2 separate regions of the Homo sapiens genome follow, and region 2 is linked to region 1. The links come from fine-mapping of genetic effects on gene expression. A gene starts in region 1. The other region holds a variant in brackets. All regions are shown on one strand. Distances are from middle to middle. Region 1 holds the start of EPAS1 (endothelial PAS domain protein 1). Region 2 holds the start of LINC01820 (long intergenic non-protein coding RNA 1820).

Region 1 (8,924 bases):
ATTGATTGTCTTGGGAACTCAGTTGAAACTGAAGTAGGAAGAGTCCCATTTTAACACTTTGCTACAGGCCAAAGCAATGCCACAGAATAGGGAGGGTGTCTCTGACTACACCCCAACCGGCCCTGTCCTCTATGCCTGTCTTAGCCAGGTGCCAGAGAAAATCGGATGCTTGGGGCCCAATGTCATCATTTTTAGTGATATAGCACCTTCATTTCTACTCATGCCTTTTTCTAAGGTGGGGCTGGCATGTCCTTCTTATTGGCCATTCCTCCCACATGGGTGTTATTTTATCACCTCAGAGGTCACACTCATCAGCCCGGCAGCTGGGCCAGTCCAGGCTAGGCTTCTCTGGGTCCTAGCAGTGGACATGGCTGGGACTCCAGATTTTCTGGTTGTTCACCACCACCAAATTCTTACCACTCCTGTTGTTTAGGCTATAAGATTTTGCTCTCGATTTTCAAATTTAAAAATGTTAAGAGCATATAAATTGTACATATTTACCAAATTAAAAATTGGGGGAGGAAAAGGAATTACCATGTCAAAAGATACCTGATTTTGGAAGCCTTAAAACGTGTGTATTCAAAATCTGGGAAATGCAGTATGTACCCAACTGAACTATGTCCTCTTGGAGGGAAGGAAACCACCAGTGCCCTCTTCCACAGACTGATGTCTTATGCTTTCCCGGAGGCAGCAGAGCACATTGGCCCTGGACCAGTGACTCTTTCACCATTGGTTGAATGACAGTTACAAATGCACAACTCCCTTCAGAGGCAAAACTTCATTCCTAAGCCTAGCAATGGAAGATGTTAGTCTCCAAGTCATCAGTATACAGGTGTGAGGAATGGAGAAGCTGGGGTTCTTTAAAACTGCATCCTTCTTACCAGCAAGCACTTAGGAATTCAAGGAGGAAAAAAAGTTTGACTCTTGCCTCAAAAAAAAAAAAAAAAAAAAAAAGAAATCACAGAACTCTTTTTGAAAGATGACAAATTCTAGATTTGTGGGGTCAAAAGTCACAACATTTAAAAGAAGATACAGCACATGTCTGTGTGGAATATCTCACGACATTGGCCTAAAGCCAAACACAGGGGGCATAGTTTTCTGGACCTGGAGTTCAGTGACAGGGAGTGTGAGTATAGATTTTGTGAAGTCACAAAAGGGGCTGGTTTCGTTTGGATGGAGTAACATGCAAGTGTGAGGGAAGGAGTGACTCAGGCAAGGCTTTTCATAGAGAAAGAGTCTCTGCCAGCTTGTCCTCTCTCCCATCTCTGCTCCTTACCTCCCCTGCTCTCTCCACCCCGAAACCAACTAAATAGCCAGACAAGGGTCAGATGGGTATTACGTGAGATAAGGCATGTGGCAGGACAGAGGCCAGTGTACTTGCATGACTCTTAAAGGCCTCTTTTGCCTCACCCTGGTCCCAACTCCAATATGTGACAATGCATTGGAAGTTGTAAGGTACTAATGAGATAGCCCATCCTTCCAAGAGCTGTTCCTGTTAGATCCCATCCATTCCAACCTAATTTCCAACTGCATCCTGGAACATACTGTTACTTCGATGGGAGTACTGAGGCCATCTTTCTTCCACCAGCCCACTGCATCCCAGGTGCCTGCTCTCTGCCAGGTTTGTAAGTTCACACTTTATCTCTATCCCATCCTCCTGAGGGCACACCCTACAAAGAAAAGAGGAAGCAAGAGAATCAGATTTGTCCCTTGTCAAAACAAATAGGTGTTTCACTGGTGCCACAGCTTTTGTTCCCAAACCATCCAATACAGGGTTGGGGGGCAGGTAGGGAGATTTGCTGGGAGGTGGGCAGTTTGCTCCTATTTTAAGCAGCTTGGGAGCTTTGCCTACCGGTGTCCTCTGCTGCCCTCTGTGGCCACAACATCAGTGTCTCTAAAGACACCCCTCTGAATCCGGGGACCCAGCTCCCCATCCCCCACTCACTGCCCCAGCATCACCTTTCAAAGTTTTTCTCCTCTAGTTCTCCACAGGCTCTAAAAAGTAAAATTGGATGCACCCTAGCCACAGCCTGCATCTGGTTTACACTCTCAGCTCCTTCCTGCAAAGGTTATTGAGCTGAGTCCTGGAAGAAATCTCAGGCCACCCGGCTCTGCTCTAAGCAAGGCTGGGTGCAACCCTTTTGAGAGTTATTATAATGAGTTTTTGGTGTATCTCAGACACTGCCAAAATCCCGGACTTGGCAAGGTGCGGTGGCTTATGCGTATAATCCCAGCACTCTGGGAAGCCCAGGTGGGTGGATCACATGAGGCCAGGAGTTCCAGACCAGCCTGGCCAACATGGCAAAACTCCATCTCTACTAAAAATACAAAAATTAGCCGGGCATGGTGGTGCACATCTGTAGTCCTAGCTACTTGGGAGGCTGAGGCAGGGGAATAGCTTGAACCCGGGACGTGGAGGTTGCAGTGCGCCAAGATCGTGCCACTCCGCTCCAACCTGCGCAACAGAGTGAGATTGTCTAAAGAAAAAAAAAAAATCCCAGACTCAATGCCAGCTGTTTGTGTTAGCCTGGGGATCCTTCACTTATAGGGTGCAGTCTGGCCAAGAGGAAGGAGCTATATAACATGGTTGATGGAATTTCTAACATTTAAGCTCAGGGGTACATGTGCAGGATGTGCAGGTTTGTTACATAGGTAAATGTGTACCATGGTGGTCCACTGCACAGATCATCCCATCACCTAGGTATTAAGCCCAGCATCCGTTAGCTATTGTTCCTGATGCTCTCCCTCCTCCCACCCCTCACCCTCTGACACGCCCCAGTCTGTGCTGTTCCTCCCATGTGTCCATGTCTTCTTAGGTTGATGTGGTCTTGAGTGACCCCTCCTTGCCTTTCCTCTTTAAAAACAAGATCTAAAAGGCTATGTTCTCTATGGGTTGGAGGTGTTGCCTCGATCTGTCAAGCACAGTCCAGGACTCAGAGGCTGTTGTGGTGAACTACTGTAGGCACCTGGAAGCCACCAAGGTGCCCTTTTCCCGCACTCTAGTCCCAAGTGAGGGAAATAAGCCTATGGTTAAGGGAGAACTATCTACCAATTTGAACTCATTAAAATACATAAATGTGTCCACTAGAAATGGCTGGCTGGAGAAGCCCAGTACCAAATCACCCCGTTCCTGAAACCCACCAGCCCCATGAAATAGTTCGCTAGAGAGAGATTTGCAATCTTTGAATTCGTTGACTATCAACCTGTATAGGTGCTCCGTGCCCCGAGATCTGAGAAAATGACAAAATACGTCTACTTCCCGGCCGGGCACAGTGACTCACGCCTGTAATCCCAATACTTTGAGAGGCCAAGTTGGGCAGATCACTTGAGGTCAGGAGTTTGAGACCAGCCTGGCCAACATGGTAAAACTCCCGTCTCTACTAAAAATACAAAAATTAGCTGAGGGTGGTGGTGGGCGCCTTTAATTCCAGTTACTCCGGAGGCTGAGCCACAAGAATCGCGGGAAGCGGAGGTTGCAGTGAGTCGAGATGGGGCCACAGCACTCCAGCCTGGGCGACAGAGTGGGACTCAGTCTCAAAAAAAAAAAAAAAGTATTTCCCAATTCTTCGTCAGTTTTTGCCCTCTCCCCACTTCGCCTTCTCCAGGCTCCTGAAAAGTATCTCCCCCAACCCTTTCTGTGTACACGGGGAAAACACGTGTTCATTTTTATTATGGCGCTGAAACCTACCCTTCTCTTCAAATCGCTTCTGTAGATCGTTCTAGTATAAAATGTGGCAAGAGGCTAAAGGGAGAGATATAGACCAGTTCTTTGGCCCTCGCTTTCCAACTTCAAGTTACACCTGTGAAACTCATGGGTCCTTCCACAGCCTTCAAAAACTAAGGGCGTCCCCTGTCCTCTCCCCAGATGTCCCTTCCCCATCGCCGGTAGCGAGTGGGAGACAGCTCAGCGCGGGGCAGGGGAGCACTGGGCCCGGAGATGGAAGGCAGCGTCAAAAGCGCCGCTGGAAAATCCCTGAGCGCTAACCGTTGCCTGTGTGAGCCCTTAAATCTACAAATTTCCAACACCTGTAGCCTTTGGGTTTCCCAGGACTTCCATCGACCCTGGCGGCAGAGAGGGCAGGCCTGAGATGCAGTGACTTGAGGGCACATGGCCAACTCTTGTCACTCCAAGATCACACTGGGGAACCAGACTGACTTCTCCAATTCTGAACTCGCCCCGGCCTCGGGCGGCTCAAAGGGCCTCCTCTGCCGCATCCCCGCCAAAACCAAACCGCCTGGCACAAGCCGGTAAGCAACCACCCTGCTGGGAGAGGGAAGGAAGAGTAGGCGCAGCCCTAGATCAATTTCCTTGCACTGCTTCTCCCAGACGGTCAAGTCAGCTGCGTCCCACCGAAAAGGGCGCATCGCCCACGCCCGAAACGCAGCCGCTGGGGGCCGAGAAATTATCCCCACCTGGCCCGAGGGCCAGGGACGCAGGAGCGCAGCAGCGTGGAGGGGCTCCGCGCTGGCCCGGCGCTGCCCGCGGTCCTGCCCTCGTTCCAAGGGCACGGCGCCGGTACGAGGACACCGACGCTGTGGCGCAACTGCCGTCCCCCGCAGCAATCCCGGAGCCCGGCTCCCGGCCGCCCCTCGGCCCTGCGCAGGCTGCCTCTCCCCGACGCGGAGTCCCACCCCGCTACCCGCCGCCCAGACGACCTCATAAACAAGTCCTCGAAGTGCGGAGGCAGGAGGCGGGGCGCAGCGCGGGGGCAGGAGGCGGGCCAGGGTCAGGGCAGAGGCTGCGGCCGCGCGTCCCCATTGGCCGGGACGCAGTGAGCCGCCCGGAGCTCGGCGCGGGCGGGGCCTGCCGGCGCGTGCCCGCCCACACACCCGCGCCGGTGCCCGCCCCCCGCCCTCCGCGCCCGCCCCGTGCCCGCCCCAAGCCGGCCGACGGAGTTTTTAAAGTGGGCTGCCGGCCGCGGGAGCTTTACACTCGCGAGCGGACCGCCACACGGGTCCGGTGCCCGCTGCGCTTCCGCCCCAGCGCTCCTGAGGCGGCCGTACAATCCTCGGCAGTGTCCTGAGACTGTATGGTCAGCTCAGCCCGGCCTCCGACTCCTTCCGACTCCCAGCATTCGAGCCACTTTTTTTTTTCTTTGAAAACTCAGAAAAGTGACTCCTTTTCCAGGGAAAAAGGAACTTGGGTTCCCTTCTCTCCGTCCTCTTTTCGGGTCTGACAGCCTCCACCCACTCCTTCCCCGGACCCCGCCTCCGCGCGCAGGTTCCTCCCAGTCACCTTTCTCCACCCCCGCCCCCGCACCTAGCCCGCCGCGCGCCACCTTCCACCTGACTGCGCGGGGCGCTCGGGACCTGCGCGCACCTCGGACCTTCACCACCCGCCCGGGCCGCGGGGAGCGGACGAGGGCCACAGCCCCCCACCCGCCAGGGAGCCCAGGTGCTCGGCGTCTGAACGTCTCAAAGGGCCACAGCGACAATGACAGCTGACAAGGAGAAGAAAAGGTAAGCGGGCGTCCGGGCCGATCAGGGGGCCGGTCCGAGGCCAGGGCCGGGCTGCGCGGGGCAGGCGCGACCGAGAGTGGTTGGGAGAAGAGTGCTGAGAGGTCTTCGGAGCTCGAGGCTCGGTTTGGAGGGCTGTGAGGGGGAGAGCATGTGCCCGGTTTGGGGGCGCGGATCAGCAGCTTTGCAGTGGAGACTTCTGCGGCTCGGAGGAGTCGGGGATTTGCGCGCACGGCGAGGCCAGGAGGCCGAGGGAGATGGCCTGGAGGTCGGAGGTGCTTCCGCGGTGCCTTTGAAAATCTCCCAGCCGCCCCGCAGCAGATTACCGTGGCCACCGGCGCTTGGAAATGTTTGTGGGTGCATGTCCTCGACTTTCTCTGGTCTCTCATTTTGGGGCAGCATCCACGTCTCTATTTTTCTCTGGATTCGCGGAGTCCTTCCAAATGCGCTCCTGTGCCCGCGCCGCGGCCCAAGTGGGCAAAGGGGGGCGGGAGGCGGAGAGCGGCTCAGGGACACGATCCTACCGAGGAGCCAGGACCCTTCAGAGCGCCCCGCTGCCGGGCTCCAGACCCCACCGAAGGTTGGAGAACCCACTTCCTCGTGCCGCACCTTGACTCTGGGGAGAGTAGGTAGTGAGTGACCTGGATTGCCCTGCGGGGGCAGATGGTTCGGTGTGTAGGAAGCGGACGGCAACACTGGATGTCCCTGGCAGGTCCGGGTGTCTGTCTCCGAAGAGGACAGAGAAGGGCAGCCACGATCTGCCCGCCTGCCCTCGCGAGCCTCTCGGCACTGGGTGAGAGGCAACTCTGGCCATTTCTTGCTGCCCTCTCGCCCTCTCCCGGCCGCTCCCAGTCCAGCCGGGCCCGGCGCTACCCGAGCGAGGGTTCGAGCCCTCTGCGCGGCCGCGCAGAAGCAGGCAGGGCCTCAACTTCTGCAAATGTGTGCGGCTCGCCGCCTGTCCCCTTTCTCCTCCTGTCTCCACCCGTGCGGCCCCAGTGGCCTGGAGCTTCCAGCCCCGCGCTTGGCCGCGGCTTGGCGAGGCTATGCTGCGGGAAGCTGGAATCCAACGCGCGGCCGGCTGAACCGCCTGAGCCGCGGGAAACCAGCGGCGGAGCGGCGGTATAGAGGTGCGAGGATGAGGAGGACCGACTCGCTAAGGGAGGGAGGTGACTGGCCGGGAGGGCTCACTGCCGAGGTTGATTTGCTCTTGTTCCAACTTCCACTACGGGACTGGAGCCAGAAACCGTGTATCCTCCGGTCGAAAGCAGCGGTTCCCACCTCGGGGCACCGATAAGGATTTGATAAACGGGAGCGAATCGCGCCTGTCCTGGCTCGGCGCCCGGGCCCTTCACTGCGGGATCGCTAGGGGAGGGGATTGGGCCCTGCTCCCCTTTCCTGGCCGTAGTCCCCCCTTTCTCGTCACCGTCGCGCCCTCAGACCCAAGACAAGTGAGGGAGCCCTGAGACTGCAGCCGGCACATTCCCAGGGCCCTCGGAGCAGTCCTGGGGTTCCATGTCTTTTGAAGGCAGCAGAGCAAGGAAAAGACTCTTAAGATTCCAGTGCGTTTTGTAAAAACCAATCATAATGCTAATAATGACTGAACCATCGAAAAGCAAAGTTATAGACAGCGCCTGCAGACGCTTTCGGGTCCGGAGCCGGGGAGGGAACTTGTGTATTTTACAACTGCGATGCCTATCGGGAATGTGGCAATCGCCGAGGTGGGGCCTGACAGTAATCTTGACAAATGTGTGAAGTGTCAGCTCCTCCTGCGCTCCTTAGCGCCGGGTTTTGTGCAGTTTTGTACCGTATATACCGAGAAACTTGGGAGCAGGGGAAAAATGATTTCGACACACCCAGCTACAGTACCTGGTTCGTTAGCGGACTGTTGGAAAGAGAGAAGAAGCGGGAATGGGAGCGGGAAGAACGTTGCGTAATTAGACTCCCAATTATTGGCGAGAGCGGCCGCTTTAAGAACCACTGTGGGGACTGCCTGCGAAACGCCTTGGAGGCCGCTGTGTGAGCTGCGGCTCCGGGCTGGTGGCCACGCGAGGGTGTCCGCCCTCTTCGACCTGCCTGGATTTTTGTGCTGCAGAATGGCAGGGCAAACAGCGTGTCCTTCACCATCTAGAGCCCCTTAAGGGGTTGTCCAATTCCTATTGGGCTAATCAGTTTGAGACTCATTTACTTTTCGTGCCTGGGTCTGTTTGCTGGCTGCAGGCTTCTTTAGGGACCAAGATGTAATTAAAATATGTGAACCAATACATTGAAAGTTGGTGTTGTCATGTAAGTGACTGCTGTAGCTTTTCTGAGTGCCTCACAAGGGCGATGTGACAGTGAGGGGGCTCTCTGCTGATGATTCTGCCCACTAGTTCTTACATTTTGTGTTTCTTTGGTTTAGCAGAGCAGTTTCTTCCCCCAAATGCAATATGGGCAGAACATTTGGAATATTCGTTCTAACAATGGCCCGTCAAGAAGTGGGCAGATGATTTTGTCCCAGAATGTTCACACGTCGATAAATATGTTAATGTTTAATAATAAAGAGTTTGCTTTCTAAATGTTAGTTGGCTGGGTGTCCTTGATAGTACCAGTTTTGGTGGTAGTGGGCATTTGCGGTGACATCACAGATGTCAGAAACTGAAGCCTGGTGGGTGGGGGTACTGCACTTTCACTCACCTTTTTGTGCACGCATCTATCAGGAATGCCTGAGTCCTTTCACTGGGAAAAAAATGTGGAAATTCTGGGATTCACGGGGTTTGAGGAGTGGTTCAGGCAAATGTAAATGAGATCCTTGGATAATCAGGGATCAAAGTCCAGTCCCAAAGCCAGACCTAGGTCCAGACACCTTCCCAGAGTGCTTATACAGTAGTGCTCAGTACAGGGCTAGCGTGGAAGGGGAATTGGAGACACCTGGATCTCCAATCTCCCCCTCCTTCTGACAGCTGGACTTAGTTGTTCCTCTTCTAAAATCAAATCAAACTCCATCATTATTCCAACTCTGAAGGGAAAAAATATTGCTGGACAGTTTCTCTCAATTTAAACATATATTTTAAATAAATATTCCCTCCACACTTGATATGTTTCCATTGTATTACCAGCAGCGCAGGATGATACAGAATTGATGTAACACATTGTTGGCTTGAGTATTTAAGTTTTAATTCATACAGTTTTCATGAAGTTCAAAAGAATGCCATCATTTCAAGTTTTTTTCAGTGGTGCTTATAGGGAGCCTAGAATTATTTTATAAGAGACCATGGAAATCATCTAGTCAGACTTTTCTCTTTCTGGATAAGGAAACTGATGCCGAGAGAGGTTAAAAGACTTCTCCGGTCACAAGGAAAATTAGTGCTGATAAGAGTCAGGGCTGGTCGCGGTGGCTCATGCCTGTAATCCCAGCACTTTGGGAGGCTGAGGCTGCGGATCACCTGAGGTCAGGAGTTCAAGACCAGCCTGGTCAACATGGTGAAACC
Region 2 (8,924 bases), 98 kb after region 1:
GTTCTGTAGAATGGTGGTGACAGCAGTCCCTACCTCATAGGGTTTAAAGCTGGAGATACAAATTTGGGTATGTGCAGTAGGTAAATTGTACTTAACTCCATGAGCTGGGATGAAATATGCCTCTGAGATAGAAGTGCAAAGAACAGAGGTCGGGAGACAGAACCTAGGCCACTGGTAGAAGCCAGACTGAGCAGGAGCACCCAAGGAGCAGAAAGAAATCCAGGGGTATAGTATCTCAAAAGCCAAGTGATAAGGGTGCTGCGGGAAGTAGGGCATAGTGAACTGCATTACACACACACTAGACTGAAAGGTAAGGGAAGGGGAAAAAAATTGACTCGGATTTGCCAACATGGAGCTCACCATCAACCTTAACAAGAGCAGGTTTGGTGGGGAGCTAAGGACAGCAGATTGGAGTAGACTGAGGAATGAGCTGGCTGGAGTGGGGAAACAGAGACCGTAGCAATATACAACTCGTTTGGGAAGGTTCCCTGTGCAGGAAAGCAGGGAAATGGAGTGGAGCAAGAGGATGACATGGGTCAGGGGAGTGTGTGGGAGTGTATATGTGTGTGTGTGTGTATGTGTGTGTGTGTGTGGTTTCATATTTAATCGACTTTTATCTTAGAATAGTTTTAGGTTTACAGAAAGGCTGTGAGACCATTATAAGAGTTCCCTGCACTCAGTTTCCTCTATTATTTTATTTTATTTTTAGAATAGAGACGGGGTTTCCCTATGTTGCCCAGGCTGGTCTCAAACTCGTGGGCTCAAGTGATCCTCCTGCCTCGGCCTCCCAAAGCGGTAGGAATATAGACGTGAGCCACCGTGCCTGGCCTCCTCTATTGTTAACATTACTATGGTACATAAGTCACAATTAATGAACCAGTATTGGTACCTTATTATCTAAAGCCTGTACTTTATTCCAGTTTTTAGTGTTACTTAATATCTTTCTTTTTCTGTTCTAAGGTCCTATTCAGGATACCACATTACATTTACTTGTCACGTCTCCTTAGGCTTCTCTTAGGTTTTCCCCACTTTTGACGGCCTTGACAATTCTGAGGAGTGCTAGTTAAGTATTTTGTAGAACATCCTTCCATTTGGATTTGTCTGGTGTTTTTCTGGTTGGACAGAGGTTGTGGGTTTTGGAAAGGAAGACCAAAGAGGTACAGTGCCATTATCACCTCCTCACATCACAGCAAGGGTACATTCCGCCGTCATGACTCGTTGCCTTGATCACCTGGCTGAGGTGTTTTGTCAGGTCTCTCCACTGTAAAGTTACTGGTTTTGGGGAGCCAGGAGGGACATCATTTTTGAAGATGAGCTACATTAGGAAACGTATATACGGTGATGGCAGAAAGTTGATGAAGACAGGAAAGGGGGGGATAATTGCAGAAGTAAAATGATTGAAAAGGTGGGATGGGCACGGATGGAATCCACTGCACCATCGAGGGGCTGGCTTCAGACAGAAGCATGGACAGTTCATCGTTTTAAAAGGGGGAAGGCAGAGAAGAGAGTAAAGCCTTAGTCCGTCAGGTGGAATTGGTGGTGGGAGGATAATAAGCAATCTCTAGTCTGATCGCTATTTCCCCAGTGATATATGAGGCTGTCAGAGGTTTGAAGAGATACAAGTATGAAATAGTCACTAGAAGGTCAGACTGATCGATGATCAGTATCAGAAGCTCAGGTGAGATTTATGGTCATGAACTGGCCCATGGCACAATTGTGTTTTCTTCTAGCCACACTGTTCTACTCTAATGGAGACTGAATGGGTGGGTAGTTGAGTTTACCAGGTTGTGGTTCAGCCAGGACGGTATGTTTAAGGGAGTGAGGAAAGTTTCCAGTAGGATGACTATTACGATGGATCACTAAGTTGTGTGAGAAGGAAAGAAAAAATGAATAGGTTCATGATCAATGAAAAAAATGGCAGGCTCAGTGAATTGGAGGTCTTAGTGAGGTCACAGTGGTCAGTGTGATATGTTAGAGAAAGGAACCATGTGGATGGGGCACAGTTGTCAGAGGAGAGGAAACTTACAGTTGAGATCTCACATACATAGGACCCAGCAATGACCACTTCTAGGTATTTTAAAGAAGTCAAGATTTTAAGTCCACACAAAATCTGCACACAAATGTTCATCCTCACCAAGAACTGAAAACAACCCAAATGTCCTTCGACAGGGGTAGATTTTTAAAAAACTGTAATATATCTACACAATGGACTACTACTCAGCAATAAAAGTTAACATGCTTGATTCAAACAACAGCATGGATGAATCTCAAAGGTATTATTCTTTTGAACAAAAGAGGCCAGTACCAAAAGGGCACATTCTATATAATTCCATTTATATGGCATTCTAGAAAAGGCAAAAATACAGGAACAGAGAACAGCTCATTGCTTGCCAGAAGGCAGGGGTGAGGAGAGATGAGGGCGTTCTCTGGAGTATTGGAACTGTTGCTTGTACTGTCTGTGGTGGTGGCTGTGAGAATCCACGCGTGTCTAAGAAACCATAGACCTGTACATCAGAAAAAGAATTTTACATATGTAAACTTAAGACATTTTTTAAATAAAAGCAAATTTTCAGATCTCAGAGGTGGCTGAAATCAAAGAAGGCAAGGGTCTGATGAAGTTGGGGAGCCAGGATGTTGTCAGAGTGGTCCAGGTGGGTGTCAGCGTCCGTGAAAGTAAAGGTGGATGGAGAGAGGAGCTGGGGACTGAAGTCACTGGGGGAAGAAAAAAAGAGTCTGAGGACTGAGAGGGAGAAATGAGTAACCCCTCTACGTCCAGGCCCTGCCTGACACCTGCCTGTAGGCGACAGAAACCAGCCTCAACCTGAGTGGCTGCAAGGAGCAGGGAGCTTGAGGACAGCCAGGCTTCAGTGAAAGAAGGTAAAGGCCCCTTCAGAGGAGGGGAGGCTCTAGGAGACAGAGTTCTCGATAATGCAGTGGAAGGGTCTGGAGGTGAGGAGGGGTGAAGGGAAGCGGATGTGCAGAACTCTCCCAGGACAAGGGCCACGTGGTGACTGATGACCTGGAAGGCTTGGTCTGCAGTGGTGACCGAGGAAGACAATTAGGAGGGACAGCATGTTGCCAAGAGGTCTCTCAGAGGTTCGAGCAAGACCGCCAGCGGGGGCAGGGTGCTGACCTCTTCTGTAGCTGGAAGGGAGATCCAGCATGCTCCCCAGGCATGGGCAGAGCTTTCTGGCCCTCCTCTTGTCCTGCAGCACCTAGGGACCAACATACATGCACACTCACAGAACGCAAAGTGGGTTTGTGTTTGTTTGTTGATTTCCAACAGCAGGTATCAGGGTGGCCAGGGGACAGCTCCCTCCATCTCTGTCCTGATCTTGGCTTTAAACTATGTGGGTGGGCCCAGCACTTGTAGGAACAAAAAAAGAAAACAGCTGCAGTTAGAGAAGACCCATTTGGCCTAAAACAAAGAACTTTTTCCCCATCCTCATTAGCCTGGTTGAGGCGAGGGCAGCTGAGCGTGAACATTGACATCATTTTGGGGGCCTCACTAAAGGCTAAGGCAGTGCTCTAACTAAGACTCAAGTCTGGATGAGAAAGCTGACTCAGACCGGGGTGGGTTGGCCTGCACGGGTTTGGGAGATCCTGGGTACGTGTGTCCACTCCTGCTTAAAATGTGGAGCACCAGCTGTGCTGGCCAGCGTGGGCTCTGCCGCGATGGTCATCATTCCCACCCCCCTACATGCTGTGGACCAACTCTGAGCTCTGCTGGGCTGTGCTCGGGGCATGGGACTGGTCATGGGTCGCTCACTTTCTGACTGAAGAAAATTGGAAAATTCGTGGGAAACTGCCCTCTAAGCCACTCCGAGCCCAGAATCCCTTTCAGGACATCTCCCTGGCCACTCACACCCTCATGGGAGAACTTCTGAAAAAGAGTAGAGGACCCAGTCTCTGCTCAAGTTTCCAGGAGCCAGCTGTGGGTGGCATCTGTAGCTCTCCGGGGGTGGCGGGGGGGGGGGGGGGAGGGGCAGGGGATAAGACTGATTGATCTTTAACTTCCTGGGTCCAATAATGACTCACATGGGTGAAGGATGAAATTCCAGGCATCACAGCAGGCTAGCAAAAGGCATATTCTAAGCAGGAGGAGGTGGACGGGGTCTTCTGGGTATTCCTCAAGTCACTCCAGGTAGACCCATCCCCTCTCATAAATCTGCACTTTTTATTTCTACAAGCAGAGGTGGGGGTGGACTTGTAGCAGTACTCACAGTCAGAAAGTAGAGACAGTCACAGTGACTTTATTATTTATTAGGCTGAGCTTGACCAGAGTATCTCATTCATTCATCACAATAGTCCTGTGAGCTCATAGGATCATAATTATTGCCATTTGGAGATGAAGAAACCGAGACAGAGAGAAATACAGTCACTTTGCCAAGGAAGTGCCTTTGATATTGAGTATGGGAATTTCTGAAAAATAACTTATTAATAAATGAGTACTAGCCTATAAAGTAATCGTAGAAATAATGTGACCCTAAAAATGCATTAATAGAAGAACAATATGGAGAAAAAAGGAATGGGTAATCCCACAATACTATGGGCTAGGAAGCCACCCCGATAATATTATATCCCTCTCTCGGCACCAGGTTTTAATAAACAGGAATGAATTCAAAGAAGGATGACTAAAATGGTGAGGAGACTCTCAACTATGTTACAAACACTGACTAGAAAAGCTGAGGAAGTTTGTACTGGAGAAAATAAGGTTTGGGGGAGCTCAAAAGCCCACCTGCAAATATCTGGAAAAGCAGAAGGTGTAGAACTTTTTTGGGTGGCTCCACAGGATAGAATCAGGCCTACAGGTGCAGGAAAACAGAGTCCAGCTGAACGCAAATACACTCGGAAACAAACTTCACCCTTTCCCTGATGTTTCAGTGTTTACTTGCTCAGAATAACAGAGAAATCCCTTTACTCTGATCACCAGAGAAAGCTATTTAGAACATGATGGGCTAA[G/C]GATAACAGGAAAAGGTAAAGAAAAACTATGATTGCAAAACTTCGCTCACATCTCTGTGTAGATAAAGCTTGGTTGTGAAAGATAGACGGCCCATATGCAACCCAGGATGACCAGAGGGGAACTGGCACTGCCCCTTAACTGTGAGCCGAAAAAATGGTGCAAATTATGGTGAATTTAAATTTTAAAATGTGTTTCTTCCTTAATAGAGATTTAGACTGCATGGCCTTCATGGACTACTGTTTCTCTTTGAGAGGTACTGTGGCATTACATCTGAAGTTAGGAAGAAAGCAAAAAACCCCACAAGTCAGAATTCCCCTCGAGAACCCCTAAGGAAGGTGTGACCACGCTGAAAACCAACACCCCACTTCTCCAGCGCAGTCAGCTTTTCCTCCGGTGTCAGAACAATTGTGGTTTCTTTGGATGAGCACCAGATGAAATAATTGGCTCATATCTAGAGATCACCTTGTAAAGAAAACACATCTTTAAACACAACTATACTCAGCACAGCAAGATGCTCACATCTCCAGAGGGATGGGGTGACTGAGATTCCCTAAAGAAACACAGGATCCACAACTCCTTTCTCATCCTTTCTCAGGGGCATATGGTCATTTCCTGGAATGATCTATTAGCATACTTACCCGTATTCAGAGGTAGATCCAGATTTTGAAGGGCTTGTTAATGGTATGTGCCTTTGCTGGGCATGGTGGCACACACCTATAGTCCCAGCTACTTGGCAGGCTGGGGCAGGAGGATCACTTGAGCCCAGGAGTTCAAATCCAGCGTGGGAAACACAGAAAGACCCCATCTCCATTAAAAAAAAAAATAGTATGTACCCTTGACATGATATAATAAAAATGATATTTTACCTCTATGATTCTTCCCCCTAAAAACCTTTAGGGAATCTCAGTCTAATCATGAGAAAGAGAATCAGACAAATCCCAACTGAGGAACATTCTACAAAAAAACCTCATTAGAACTCCTCAAAACTGTCAAGGTCATCGAAAACAAGTGCTGGGCATGTGGCTCATGCCTGTAATCCCAGCACTTTGTGGGGCCAAGGTGGGAGGATCACTTGAGCCCAGGAGTTCAAGACTAGCCTGGGCAACATGGCAAGACCCTGTCTCTACAAAAATAATTTAAAAATTAGCCAGGCATGATGGCACATGTCTGTAATCCCAGCTACTCAGGAAGCTGAGGTGGGAGAATGGCTTGAACCTAGGAAGTTGAGGCTGCAGTGAGCTGTGTTTATGCCATTGCACTTCAGCCTGGGTAATAGAACAAGAGCTGGTCTTAAAAAACAAGTAAATTTGAGCAACTGTCTCAGTCAAGAGCAGCCTAAAGAGACAATTAAATGAAATGTGCTCTGTTTTTTTTTTTTTTTTTTGAGAGAGAGTCTCACTCTGTCGCCCAGGCTGGAGTGCAGTGGCACGATCTCGGCTCACTGCAAGCTCCACCTCTTGGGTTCAACCATTCTCCTGCCTCGGCCTCCCGAGTAGCTGGGACTACAGGTGCCCAGCACCACGCTCAGCGAATTTTTTGTATTTTTAGTAGAGACGGGGTTCCACCGTGTTAGCCAGGATGGTGGAATGTGCTTTCTTAAACAGGATCCTATAATAAAGAAAAGAACATTAGGTAAAAACTAAGGAAATGTGAGTAAAATACGGGCTTTAGTTAATAATGATGTATCAATATTGGTTCATTAATTATAGGGAATGTACTATACTAAGATGTTAATCATAGAGAAAAACTGGGTGTGAGGCATATGGTAATTCTTTGTATGATTTTTGCAATTTTTCTGTAAATCTAAAACTATACTTAAATAAATGTTTTTTCAAACTATGCCAGATGAGAGCAAGGAAAACACAGGAGGGAATACAAAGCTAAGAAAAGGTAGATAAATGAGTAAATCTAAGTGAATATTGACTGTTAATAATTGTAGGGTTTAAAATAAATGTGGAATGAACGTATGTGAAAACAATGGCACAAAAGGTGAGAAGAAGTACATGGAGTTAAGTGGCTTTCAGTCTTTGCCTTGTCTAGAAAGTGGTCAATGTGGACGGGTGCGATGGCTCACGCCTGTAATCCCAGCACTTTGGGAGGCCGAGGCAGGCGGATCATGAGGTCAGGAGATCAAGACCATCCTGGACAACATGGTGAAAACCCGTCTTTACTAAAATACAAAAAATTAGCCAGGTGTGGTGTCACGCGCCTGTAATCTCAGCTACTCAGAAGGCCAAGGCAGGAGAATCCCTTGAACCAGGGAGTCAGAGATTGCAGTGAGCCAAGATCGCACCACTGCACTCCAGCCTGGCAACAGAGCAAGACTCCATCTCCAAAAAAAAAAAAAAGAAAAAGAAAGAAAGTGGTCAATGTAATTATTTATATTAGATGCTAATAAATCAAGGATGCATGTTGTAATTACTAGAGCGATCATTAGAACTGTAAAATAATGTAACAATGACAAGCTAATAGAGCGGGGAAATGAAATCTCAAAAAAAAAAAAAAAAAAAAAAAAACGTGATTATTCCAGAAAAAGGCAAGAAAGGAGAGAAAAAGAAACACAGGGAGGTTGGATAAGTACAAACCAAGTAAGATGCTAGCTTTCAATCTAAATATATCAGTCATTGACCAGGCGCTGTAGTTCGTGCCTCTAATCCCAGCACTTTGGGAGTCTGAGGCAAGAGGACTGCTTGAGCCCAAGAGTTTGAGACCAGTCTGGGCAACAAGGGAAACCCTATCTCTACAAAAAATTAAAAAATTAGCTGGGCATGGTGGTGCATGCCTGTAGCCCCAGCTACTCGGGAGACTGAAGTGGGAGGATAGCTTGAGACCCAGAGGTTGAGGCTGCAGTGAGCCATGATCATGCCACTGCACTCCAGCCTGGGTGACAGAGAACCGTGTCTCAAAAAAAACAAATATATCAGTAATTAAATAATATGAGTGGGGTTAAATATTAATAGTTCCATTAAATGACAAATATTACCAGACCAGGTTAAAAGATATATAAAGACTGCTTACAGGAAATATGCCTTATAAATAAGGATACAGACAGGAGACAGTGAAAAGACAAAAAGAAACCATGCAAACACAACTCCCTCCAAAAAAGCTGGTGTAGCATACTAATATCAAATAGGTAGACTTTGAGGAAGAAGCATTAACCAAAATAAAGAGTGACTTTTCATAATAATAAAAGGGTCAATACAATAGGGAGGTTTCATAATTCTGTATTTGTATGTACCTAATAAGCCTCAGGAATTAATACTACCACAAGGAAAACTAGAAAATCTATAATCATAACAGGAGATTTTAACACATCTCGCTCAGTAACTGATAGAACAAGCAGAAAAAAAAGTAAATGAGGATCAAGAAAATGAAAAGACAAGCAATAAAAGGGAGAAAATAGTTACAAATCATATATCTGCTAAGGGACTAATATCCAGAATGGATAAAGGACACTTACACCTCAACAACTGAAAGGAAAATAACTCTATTTAAGATTCCTCCAAATATTCCTCCAAAGAAGATATACAGATGGCCAATTAAATGTATCAAAAAGACACTCAATGTCATTACAGACATGCAAATTAAAACCACAATAAGATACCCCTTCACACATCACTATGCTGACTAAAATTTAAAAGATGGGCAATAAAAAGTGTTGCTAAAGATGTGGAGAAATAGAAACACTCATACATTGCTAGTAGAAATGTAAAATGGCATGCAAAGTCCTTTGGAGAACGGTCTGGCAGTTCCTCAAAGAGTTAAACAGAATTGCCATATGACCTGCAATTTCACTCCTAGATATATACTCAAGAGAACTGAAAACATATGTTCACATAAAAACTTATATACAAATATTTACAGCAGCACTATTCATAATAGCCCAAAAGTAGAAACAACCTAAACATCCATCAGCTGATAAATGAATAAACAAGATGAGGTGTAGACATACAATGGAATA

The links. PIP is the estimated chance that this variant, and not a neighbour inherited with it, causes the effect.
Region 2: its variant is fine-mapped to the expression of EPAS1 in whole blood (INTERVAL, PIP above 0.99).

The regions. Positions count from the first base shown.
Region 1 is chr2:46,292,478-46,301,401 of GRCh38, forward strand. EPAS1 (endothelial PAS domain protein 1) reads left to right here and starts at 4,930. Exons shown (of 16, transcript NM_001430.5): 1 at 4,930-5,460. The coding sequence starts at 5,435. RefSeq lists silencers at 4,384-4,963, 5,194-5,523.
Region 2 is chr2:46,389,980-46,398,903 of GRCh38, forward strand. LINC01820 (long intergenic non-protein coding RNA 1820) reads right to left here and starts at 4,188. Exons shown (of 3, transcript NR_146999.1): 1 at 4,039-4,188; 2 at 3,134-3,366; 3 at 2,314-2,504. RefSeq lists enhancers at 3,184-3,684, 3,685-4,185. The variant G/C (reference allele first, on the strand shown) is at 4,963.